Linked DNA regions of Homo sapiens: region 1 is linked to region 2. Evidence: fine-mapped expression QTL. A gene starts in region 2. The other region holds a variant in brackets. All regions are shown on one strand. Distances are between the middles of the regions.

Region 1 (5,525 bases), 73 kb before region 2:
GCTAACATAAAACTTTTGCATTCATTTCCATTTTAAAGTGCTACTACTTAGAATAAAATATTACCTTCAGAGTGAAATGAATTCCCATGAAGCCCTGAGATTTGATCCGAGTCCGGGTGTATCTGAACTTCTCTTGAACCAGGCATGCTATTAAAAAATTTTGTTTTTTCATTATTTACATTATTCTTCTCAGCAGACATTTTATTTTAAAAATGTAATTCATCAAATAAATGGATTCCAGTTATAAATTGACTTTTAAATTAAAAGCACACCATCCATTTGTCCATTTTTTGTGTACATTAAAAACATCTGTGTAACTGGGCTTGCCAGTCTAAGATAAAAGTAATCCCTGTTTTCCATATAGAATCTTACAGTTCAAAAAGGACCTCACTCAATCCTTGCCACAACCTATGAGATGGGTGGCATTTTATAAAAGAGAAATTAGGCACAGTGAGATAAATATGATTCGAGTGGAACCAGGACTCACATCGATCTCATTCTTTGGTTTCTGAACTCAGCCCACTTTCCCTCACATAATACAGATCTTCCCGAGAGTCCCGTAAGCGTTTCACCATCCTTCTTTTTTCCAGTTTGCCTTTGTAAAGCTCATTTCTTTTTACTGTGAAATTAATAAATAGCAATAATACAAATCTCTTTTAAGGTATATAAAAATTCTTCCCTGAGGAGCTCTGTAGGAATTATAAGTAGATCACGATTCAATTTATTCTAATATACGAGTTTAACCCAATTTACAATTTACATATCTTTAGGAAATGGCTTCATGCTTTCAGACCACAAATATTCCAAAAGGAATAATTTCAGTGTATTTAATATTCCAGTGAACAGAACGAATCAAAGGGGCTAAGTACTGACCAGTGGATACTGGTCACACACATCGGACTCAGTAGGATAGCCCCTCTGTTCCAGAATATGAGTGGCTTTATAGAGTTCTCATTTCTAGACGATGAGCTGGGAAATGAGTGTAAAGGAGAGGACGGTGTGACGGGCATGCATAGGTTAAGGGCAGCTGCACACGGACGTGCATGGGGATCTCCGTGGGGCCTGGTGGCTTTAAGACACTGGGTCTGTGTCTCAGACCTGGAAGGCCAGAGGCCTGCACTTAAAACTTACATTCTAAGAAAACAAAGCCGGGACTCTCAAATGTATCCCTAAAAAGCCCCTGGTAAAGAAAAAAGTCTCCAATAAACAAATACCCTTCAGAATAAGGGAGAACTTCCATACAGGGAGGGAAATAAGAACGCGCCAAGGCTCAGCCAGGTGCGGTGGCTCATGCCTATAATTCCAGCACTTTGCGGGGCCTAGGTGGGTGGATCAACTGAGGTCAGGAGTTCAACACCAGCCTGACCAACATGGTGAAACCCTGTCTCCACTAAAAATACAAAATTAGCTGGGCGTGGTGGCACATGCCTGTAATCTCAGCTACTCGGGAGGCTGAGGCAAGAGAATCGCTTGAACCTGGGATGTGGAGGTTGCAGTGAGCCGAGATCACACCATTGCACCACTCCAGCCTAGGCAACAGAGCGAAACTCTGTCTGAAAAAAAAAAAAAAAAAAAAAAGAATGCTCCAAGGCTCAACGAATGCCTCCATCAGAATGCCTGGGAATCCATTCAGAGAAAGGTGCTACAAAGCCATGATGCTCAAGTAATTAGCAAGAAAGTTCAAGGATGAGGAGGAGATCCAGCAAACTCCTACAGCCCTCATTTATGCCCGCTAAAGCAATAAATCCCTGCAGGACCAAGCATCTCTCAGGATCCCCATGGATGCGGAGGATAAACACAGAGCAGAGACAAGGTTACTGCTACTTTACTGTGTCCCCATCACGTGTCGATCAATCCATCCTAATATCTTAGAATCCAATTTGAGTTCAGCGTTCTTTTGCGCAATAGTCCCAGGACCCGAGCTGCTCTCTTTGCATATGTTAAGGACTTTGGAAAAAGTCTTCATTCTTTCTACCAATACCTGTGAGGCAACCAGGTGTCCTGAAAGACCGAATAATGCACCTTTCCCCAAACCAAATAGGCGTCTATGGTGTGATGCAGGCATGGGTGGAGAGAGACTAGCTCAGCTATAGTACCTGTACTGAAGGAAAGGGACAGGACTCGTTCCATGTCAACAGGGAAACTATAGCAAAGATTCAGGAAATCTCTAGGTTGCAGGACCCACAGACTTCACGGTGCCTTTAGAAACTGGTCAACGAAGTGTGTTTGAACAGCACACTTTGCCTACGTTCTATGATGTGTAATTACGAAACCCTGACCCAGCCTCTTACCTGGAATTTGGATGTGATTGGAAAGTGGGGTAAAAACTGAAATTGTGTTCCTTGAAAATCTCTGTCCAAGTCCTGTGAAATTTTTCTCTTTTACTTCTTAGATAGTTGAGAAGATCACCATAGCAACAGTATTCAAAAATCAAGTAAATTGGTCCTGAAATAGTTACAGTTTCAATTATAGGCATACACAAAGCAAACTGTTATTTCAGAAGTCTATGTAGCAGACAACATACTCTTAGGAGGGCTTGGTTCTCTGCTGACTTGGGGACAGTACAACTTTTTCTGAGCCTAGCTCTTCTTATACTTTAAATTCAGTTTCAGCTTTTGCTCAAATTTCTTTGGAAAGCAGCATCTTCTTGACATTCTCTGTGGCCCTTTTTTGTATGTGTGGCCTCACCAATACCACTGGCCTCCTGGATTCTCCAG[T/C]TGGCAACTGAAAGTAATGTTCTAGCTGTGTATTATAGGTGAACACTTGGTAACTATATGCTGATTTGCTGTTTGCTTGAGGAGGGAGAAATATATTCCCAGTCCTCTCTCAGATTCACTTTCCTCTTTTTCCTTTCTTTTAGTACCAGCCCCAGGCCTGCTGCTGCAGAAAGAATGAACCTTGGGCACATCATTTGGGTATTTCTAGGCAGAAGAGAGAAGATCAGAGGGCATGCCCCAGAGAATTCTGGGAAAGTAAAGTCTGATATCCTAGCTAGGCTGTGCCGTATTTGACGGCAGCCCAACTGGGGCAGTGGCCAGGCTCTGTAACCACTCTCACCACGCCTGTGCACCAGCTTCCAAGCTGGGAGAGAAGCACAGACACCACCAAATGTACTTGCAATGTTGTTGTTGTTGTTGTTTTTAAGCAGGTGAGAATTATGCAATATATCACGATAAAGCAGATGAATGAGGCATTCTTTATTTTGACCCCTCTGATTTATAGAGTGCTCAGTGTCTAATTCCACTTGGGTTTGAGAGTTCACACTGTGACTGAGAAAAGACAAAGAATTAAAAAGAGAGAGAGAGAGAGAGAGAGCAAACATCCTCTTTGTCATCAAGCTACAGTCTTTTTGATGAGGTGATTTTCGTGGAAGTGGGTTACCTGACAGTGTGCACGCCCCCAGCAGGTTCACAATATTCTCGTGGCTTCCCAGCTGGGTCATCATCTTGAGTTCTGACATGAGTGCCTCTCTTTCAGAGCTGTCTGCTTTTTCTGTCAAAGAAAGGAGCATTAAAAATGTAAAACTCAAGTAAAATACGAATTTTATGTCATTAAATAAAATTTTTCTCAGCTCAGAGTCAATCTGCATTATTTATTTAAATTCAAAATTATGAGAGAAGCCAGGCATGGTGGGTCATGCCTGTAATCCCAGCACTTTGGGAGGCCGAGGTGGGTGGATCACTTGAGGTCAGAAGTTCAAGACTGGCCTGGCCAATATGGTGAAACCTCGTCTCTACTAAAAATACAAAAATTAGCCAGGCGTGGTGGCAGGCACCTGTAATCCCAGCTACTTGGGAGGATGAGGCAGGAGAATCGCTTGAATGTGGGAGGCAGAGGTTGCAATTAGCTGAGACTGCACCATTGCACTCCAGCCTGGGCAACAAGAGTGAAACTCCATCTTAAAATAAATAAATAAATAAACAAACAAACAATATCCTGTGTTTTAAGACAGAATTTCTCCTTTTTCTTTTTTTTTTTTCCTTTTCTTTCTTTCTTTTTTTTTGACACAGTATCTCACTCTGTCACCCAGGCTGGAGTGTAGTGACATGATCTCAGCTTACTGTAGCCTCTGCCTCCTGGGCTCAAGTGATCCTCCTACCTCAGCCCTCCAAGTTACTGGTACTACAAGCACAGGCCATCATGCCCAGCTAATTTTTATATTTTTTGTAGAGATGGGGTCTCACCATGTTGCCCAGGCTGGTCTTGAACTCCTAGATTCAAGCAATCCTCCCAACTCCGCCTCCCAAAGTGCTGGGAATACAGGCATGAGCCACCATGCCCAGCCTAAGGCAGAATTCAGACTGTAGTATAGGGCTGGGCGCAGTGGCTCACACCTGTAATCCCAACACTTTGGGAGGCCAAGGCGGGTGGATCACTTAAGGTCAGGAGTTGAAGACCAACCTGGCCAACATGGTGAAACCCTGTCTCTACTAAACATACAAAAAATTAGCCGGGCGTGCCGGTGCGTACCTGTAATTCCAGCTACTCAGGAGGATGAGGCAAAAGAATCCCTTGAACTGGGGAGGCAGAGGTTGCAGTGAGCCGAGATTGAGCCCCTGCACCACTCCAGCCTGGGTGACAGAGCGAGACTCTGTCTCAAAAACAAAACAAAACAAAACAAAACAAAGACTATAGTATAAATGTTGAATCTGGTAATGCACCTTTCAACAGGACTTTCCTCTACCTACCAAAATAAAAATCCTTACAGTTGGCCCTCAAAACAAACAAACAAAATAATAACACATGCTTTTCCTCCTCAGTACAAGTTAACAGAAGGGAGAAACGTCCTTTTTGTTTGTTTGTTTGAACTCTTGGATCTGTTGTAGTCAGAGAGAGATAACAGTGTCGTGAGCATGGTTGACTCTAGCCTGTGGCCCTCAGGTCTAGAACATTAGATTTGCCAGCAAGTCCAATGGGAGAAGGTCAAAGAGGACTAATTCCCACTATCAGGTGCTCAAGAGACCCATTAATTGACATTGAGAAATAAAACTGCCAAGCAGGCTAGAACATATTGGTTGGCCAATGCATTCTCTCTCTAGGGAAAATTCCAGATAGCTCAGCAAACTGTACTTATAAGCTGACTTAGAAGCACAGTGTGAGGAAAGTCACTATGGAATCCAAGGGCTCCCGTCATTGCGGCTCATGTGCAGTTGGTCAGGGCAGCCCGGGCAGCCACAGGGGCAAGGGCAGGGTCTCTGGACTTCCCTCTCCAGGCTCCAGGCACCACCCCTCTGTGAACAGACTTTTTCTTCCAGATATAGTAACTCTTCTTTACATTCAGTGAAGATTTGGTTCGATTGCCAGGTTCCATTATTTTGTCCAGGAAGGCATCCTAACCTTTATAGTGGCTTCTCCGGTGCTGACATCCTCTATTTTGGTTTGGGCAAGCTCTCAGGGGTATCCTTGTTTCCAAGATTTTAGCTTGGGGGTGGGATTTCCTGTGGGCACTGGGACCCCCTAATACATCATGTCTTCAGCTTCACGCTGGACAGGGATTCGGGGCTTTACTTGTTCATGTCCTATTC
Region 2 (5,000 bases):
TCTGGGCTCACATCCAATCCAAACCAAGCTTTGCTGAGTGTCCCTTCCCTCCACTTTCTCCTGAATCATTCCCCCTTGGGCTAGGAGTTTCCAAGAAGGCAAATAAACTAAGATAAGCAACAAGAGCAAAGAATGGCAACTCAAATGTGCAGTTCAAGGCTTTGAATACGAATTTTTTTTAACACTAATGAAAAAGGTAGTATCATAGCTCTTAAAATATTGAAATACTTCTCTCTGTCCAGTATCAGCAGATAATGCAGAAAAGCCCATTGGGAACATGTTCCTCTCCTTCAAATGCCACTTAGAAAGCTTCATCATTATTCATAAATGATGAATAGAAGTCTGGGCATGGCCGGGTGTGGTGGCTCATACCTGTAATCCCAGCGCTTTGGGAGGCTGAGGTGGGTGGATCGCCTAAGGTCAGGAGTTCGAGACCAGCCTGGCCAACATGGTGAAACCTCGTCTCTACTAAAAATACAAAAATTAGCTGGGTGCGGTGGCACGCACCTGTAATCCCAGCTACTCAGGAGGCTGAGGCAGGAGAATCGCTTGAACCTGGGAGGCGGAGGTTGCAGTGAGCTGAGATCGCGCCACTACACTCCAGCCTGGGTGACAGAGCAAGACTCCGTCTCAAAAAAAAAAAAAAAAAAAAAAGTAGTGTTTACAATATAAGGGAAATTGGGATCCCATGTTCTAATTCAAAGAATTTAAGGCTATTAACCATTTTAAAGTTCTCATGTTTAAGCTTCTCACTTTATCCTTCTTTATTCAAGAAAATCCATAATACAAAGTATTGGCAAAGATGTGAGGAACTGGAACTGCCATACACTGCTAGTGGGAGTGGAAATTGGTGTAACCACTGTGGAAAACCGTTTGACGGTATCTACCAAACCTGAACATATCCCTTCCCTATGATCCAGGAATTCTACTTGTGGGCATAATCCTTTATACTGGTGTTTATGTCCACCATATATAAAACAATGTTCACAGCAGTGCTATGCATAATTACACAAAATTGGAACAACTTCCATGTGCTTCGTGAACATAATGGATAAAATAAATTATAAGATCTATTCATACCACGGAATGGTACCAGCAATTAAAAAAAAAAACACTGCTACAGAGAACAAGGTTGAATCTTATTATTATAATGTTGAGTAAAAGAAGGTGGACATAAAAGAGCACACGATGATGGTTTGGTTTACATGAAGTTCAAACATAGGCAAAAGCAATCCATGGCATCAGAAGTCAGAATAGTGGCTACCTGGGGAGGGGGTACTGACAGAGAGGGTGGAGCTAGAATTGCTCTATATCTCAGTCTGATCGTGGTTATTTGGGCACGTACATATGTGAAAACTAATGAAATTGTACTCTTAAGATGTGTGCATATTTACTGTGTGCCAATTATACTTCATTTAGAAATATCTGGAGAGAGAGACATAGAAATTTCTGAATTCTTTCCTAAATAGAAAAGAATTCCATGCAGCTTAAATATCGTTGCAAGTATTGATGCTTATACCTTTAGAAAGCCCATTATGCTTCTGAAAAATGCACTTACTACTTAATATCATACATAATAGAAAGCTAACATTTTGTATTAACGGAATCTGGAAAACATATTGTACTACACATTTGAAATTACAGATTTACTAACTAGTAAAGATAACTATTTAAGAACTAAAATGTCTTTGTTTTTCAACTCTTTTCCCCCGATTTCCATTTTTTACTTTTTATATTTCAGAATTATTTGTAACAAAAGCTATTGGATATAATTCCTGCACTTCTATATTGCAAGCATTTTCTCTATTTACCACAGAGACTTCAAGTCCTAGCATTTCAGAGCTGAAGGGGACTCGGACGGACTCCCTCACTGCACAGATGAGGACGCGGAGGCCGGGGGAGGTGAGTGTCAGTCCCAAGGTTGCAGACCTAGGACAGGGACCGGAGCTGCCGGGCACCCAGAACTCTGTCGCCTTCAACCCAAATTCGATTCAGTCCTCTCATCTTTCCAAATAGAAAGCTGACGCGAACCGATGGGAAGATTTTTTTTTTCAATAACAACTATGCTACCCAGCAGATTCTTTGGGGACAGTCCTCGGAGTCCTTGAAAACCCCTTTGGGGTTTATGCCAGGATAAGAAGAGACTAGAAGAAAGGGACAGCTAGTATTTTAATATGTAAATCTGTTTGCATAATATTTCCTAGGTAAACTATTCGTTGATCCAACCAAAATTCGGCGGGGCTGGGGGGTATCGTTATTGAGGATGACTCGCTCTAGGGGAGAACGCGGACGCATTTTCCCATCAGAGTTCCCTCCATAAATCAAAACCTCAAAAGAAGAGTTAAAGACGACACCCAGGTGTCTACAGTATCCAAGGGCCGGGCCAGGAGAGGTCCTTGGCCACCTGGCGCCGAGTTCGCGGCCGCAGACTCCCACGGACGGCCCAGCACCCGAGCGCGCGGGCCGAGCTGCCCCAGACCCGGCGCAGCGCCTCGGCGAGGCCGTCTGCGAAGTCCGGGCCGCCACTCGGGACCGCGGCCCGAGCCAGAGGAGAGACTTCGGAGAAGAGGGAAGAGGACGCGGGGTGGGAAACGCCGGGGCCGCAGGCAAGTAGTGGGCGAGTCCGGAGGGCGCGAAAGAGGGGAGGGGCGCGGGAGGCAATGGAAGGAGCGAGCGCGGGGAGGAGCGAGGCGGCTGGGCCGGAGGAGGCGCGCGCCCGGGTCCACACTGCGGGGTGGGGGCTGAGGGACCGCGAGGGGCTGCGAGCGAGCGAGCGGGGCCTTACCGAGCAGCGGCAGCTGGCCGCCGTCGCGCGCCAACGCCGGCATGGCCTCCGGAGCCCGGGGTCCCCAGGCCGCGCCGGCCCAGCCCTGCGATGCCGCCTGGAGCGGCGCGCCTCGCGCTGCAGGTGGCTCTCTTAAGGATGCGCGTCACCGACCGCAAATTCCCTCGGACTGGTGCAAAGTGGAAGGGGGGAGGAACCCTCTCCCCAGAGGCAGGGACCGAGGCGGGAGCGGAGAGGTTGGGCAGAGCCGAGCAGCCGGTGCCTGGCGCAGCGCTGCAGCCGAGCCCACGTGCCCGCCGCGGTCCGCAGCCTGTGCTCGGCGGCCCCCGGGGCTCCCCGACTGCGGCGGGGAAGATTGGGCGCGGTCCCGCCGGAGAAGTTGCACTGGCTCCGCGGCTCTGCCGCCTTGCTGCCCCTGTGAGTCCCCGAACTCTGTCGTTTGGATCCGGGGCGTGGGGACTGCAGGGAGCCACAAACCACCCTCCTAGTGCGCTGGGATCTTTGAGGCCCTGAGAAAGGCGCTGAATCCGCTCGGCACGCTGGCAACTCCCGCCAGCGCACAGGCGAGCATTCCATTAAGAACCATTCCATTCTTAATTGTGGACTGATTTCCTTTGTCTCTGCCTCCATCTCCTAGGATGCTCAGGACCCAGTCAGCGGCGGGATCAAGAAAAACAGGCAGGGTTTCAATGTCAACCAAGGCAATTAGGGAGGTTAACAAACAGCCTTCAAAACAAAACACACAGAAAATACATCCCAGAGGATGTTGCGAATCATCCGCTCAATAGTTCTTGTTCTTCATCGCATAATTTTTCGAGTTGAAAATTATTATTATTTTCTTTGCAATAAGTTGAGGATTGGAAAGCTCTGGATGCCAGTTCTGGTTCTTCCCTTACTTAACTAGCCGTTTGACCTCCACAAACCTCTGTTTACTCATCGTAAAGGAAAGGGATGGACCAAATGGTTCATAATGTCTCTCCCAATTCTAGGAATTCCACGCTCTTAATTATTTTAATTATTTTCTAATAAAGCATGAAAATTGACTGTTTACTCTTGGCCATACAGTTCTTTTCCTTAGATGTTGTCTACAGTACAATAATTCTTTCCCCTAGGGTATGGCAGAAACTTTAGAAGTGTCTACCATGGTGCAGCCACTATGGAAAACACTATAGAGGTTTCTCAAAAAATTAAAAAAAATACGGTCCAACAATTCCATTTCTGGCCATGTAGCCAAAAGAATTGAAAGCAGGGTCTTGAAGAGATGTCTGTACACCCGTGTTGAAAGCAGCATTATTCACAGTAGTCAAAAGGCAGAAGTAACCCATGTCCACAACAGATGAATGATAAACAAAAATGCAGTATATACATACGACTGAGTATTTTTCAGCTTTAAAGAGGAGGGAAATTCTGATACAGCTAAAATATGGATGAATCTTGACATTATGCTAAGTGAAATAAGCTAGTCCCAAAAAATACAATACTGTATCCCATTACAAATTCATAAAGACAGAAAGTTAAATGGTGGTTACCATGGGCTGGGGGCAGGGGGAAATGGGGAGCCAGTGTTTAATGGATACAGAGTTTCAGTTTTGCAAGATGAGCAGAGTTCTGGAGACTGGTTGCACAACAATGTGAATGTACTTAACGCTACTAAACTGTACACTTAAAAATGGCTAAGGCTGGGTGCGGTGGCTCATGCCTGTAATCCTAGCACTTTGGGAGGCCGAGGTGGGCAGATCACCTGAGGTCAGCAGTTCGAGACCAGCCTAGCCAACATGGTGAAACCCCATCTCTACAAAAATGCAACAATTAGCCAGGCGTAGTGGCGCATGCCTGTAATCCCAGCTACCTGGGAGGTTGAGGCAGGAGAATCACTGGAACCCGGGAGGCAGAGGCTGCAGTGAGCTGAGATCACACCACTGCACTCCAGCCTGGGTGACAGAGTGAGACTCTGTCTCAAAAACAAAAACAAAAACAAAAAGTTAAGATGGTAAATTTTATGTATGTGTATTTTACCTCAATTTTAAATTTTTTAAGTTTTTGTGTAGCTGCTGGGGGTTTAAAAATTTTTTTAAAGAGTGTTGTGTCTACCTTAGGTCAGAAACAGAAGTGAAGGAAGATGGCCTGAAATAAGTGAAACATGAGGAGATAAAGCAATGAAACAGGCTGGTTATGGGGAGAAAAGCGAGCTTCCAATGGCCAAGACCTAACACAC

Which allele goes with the higher level. Positions count from the first base shown, and alleles are read on the strand shown. Sizes are in standard deviations (SD) of each study's normalised expression.
With allele C in place of T in region 1, the expression in spleen of the gene that starts at base 2,894 in region 2 is higher (moderate effect, 0.46 SD a copy in GTEx).

The links. PIP is the estimated chance that this variant, and not a neighbour inherited with it, causes the effect.
Region 1: its variant is the best candidate, but not a certain one, in a credible set for the expression of FLT3 in spleen (GTEx, PIP 0.73).

Annotation. Positions count from the first base shown.
Region 1 is chr13:28,024,797-28,030,321 of GRCh38, forward strand. It overlaps FLT3 (fms related receptor tyrosine kinase 3), which reads right to left. Exons shown (of 24, transcript NM_004119.3): 16 at 3,382-3,492; 17 at 2,292-2,445; 18 at 65-147. Among named protein-coding and RNA genes, the nearest start is that of URAD, 39 kb to the left of the region's middle. The variant T/C (reference allele first, on the strand shown) is at 2,718.
Region 2 is chr13:28,097,683-28,102,682 of GRCh38, forward strand. FLT3 (fms related receptor tyrosine kinase 3) reads right to left here and starts at 2,894. Exons shown (of 24, transcript NM_004119.3): 1 at 2,786-2,894. The coding sequence starts at 2,828. RefSeq lists silencers at 2,728-2,887, 3,008-3,067 and an enhancer at 3,178-3,307.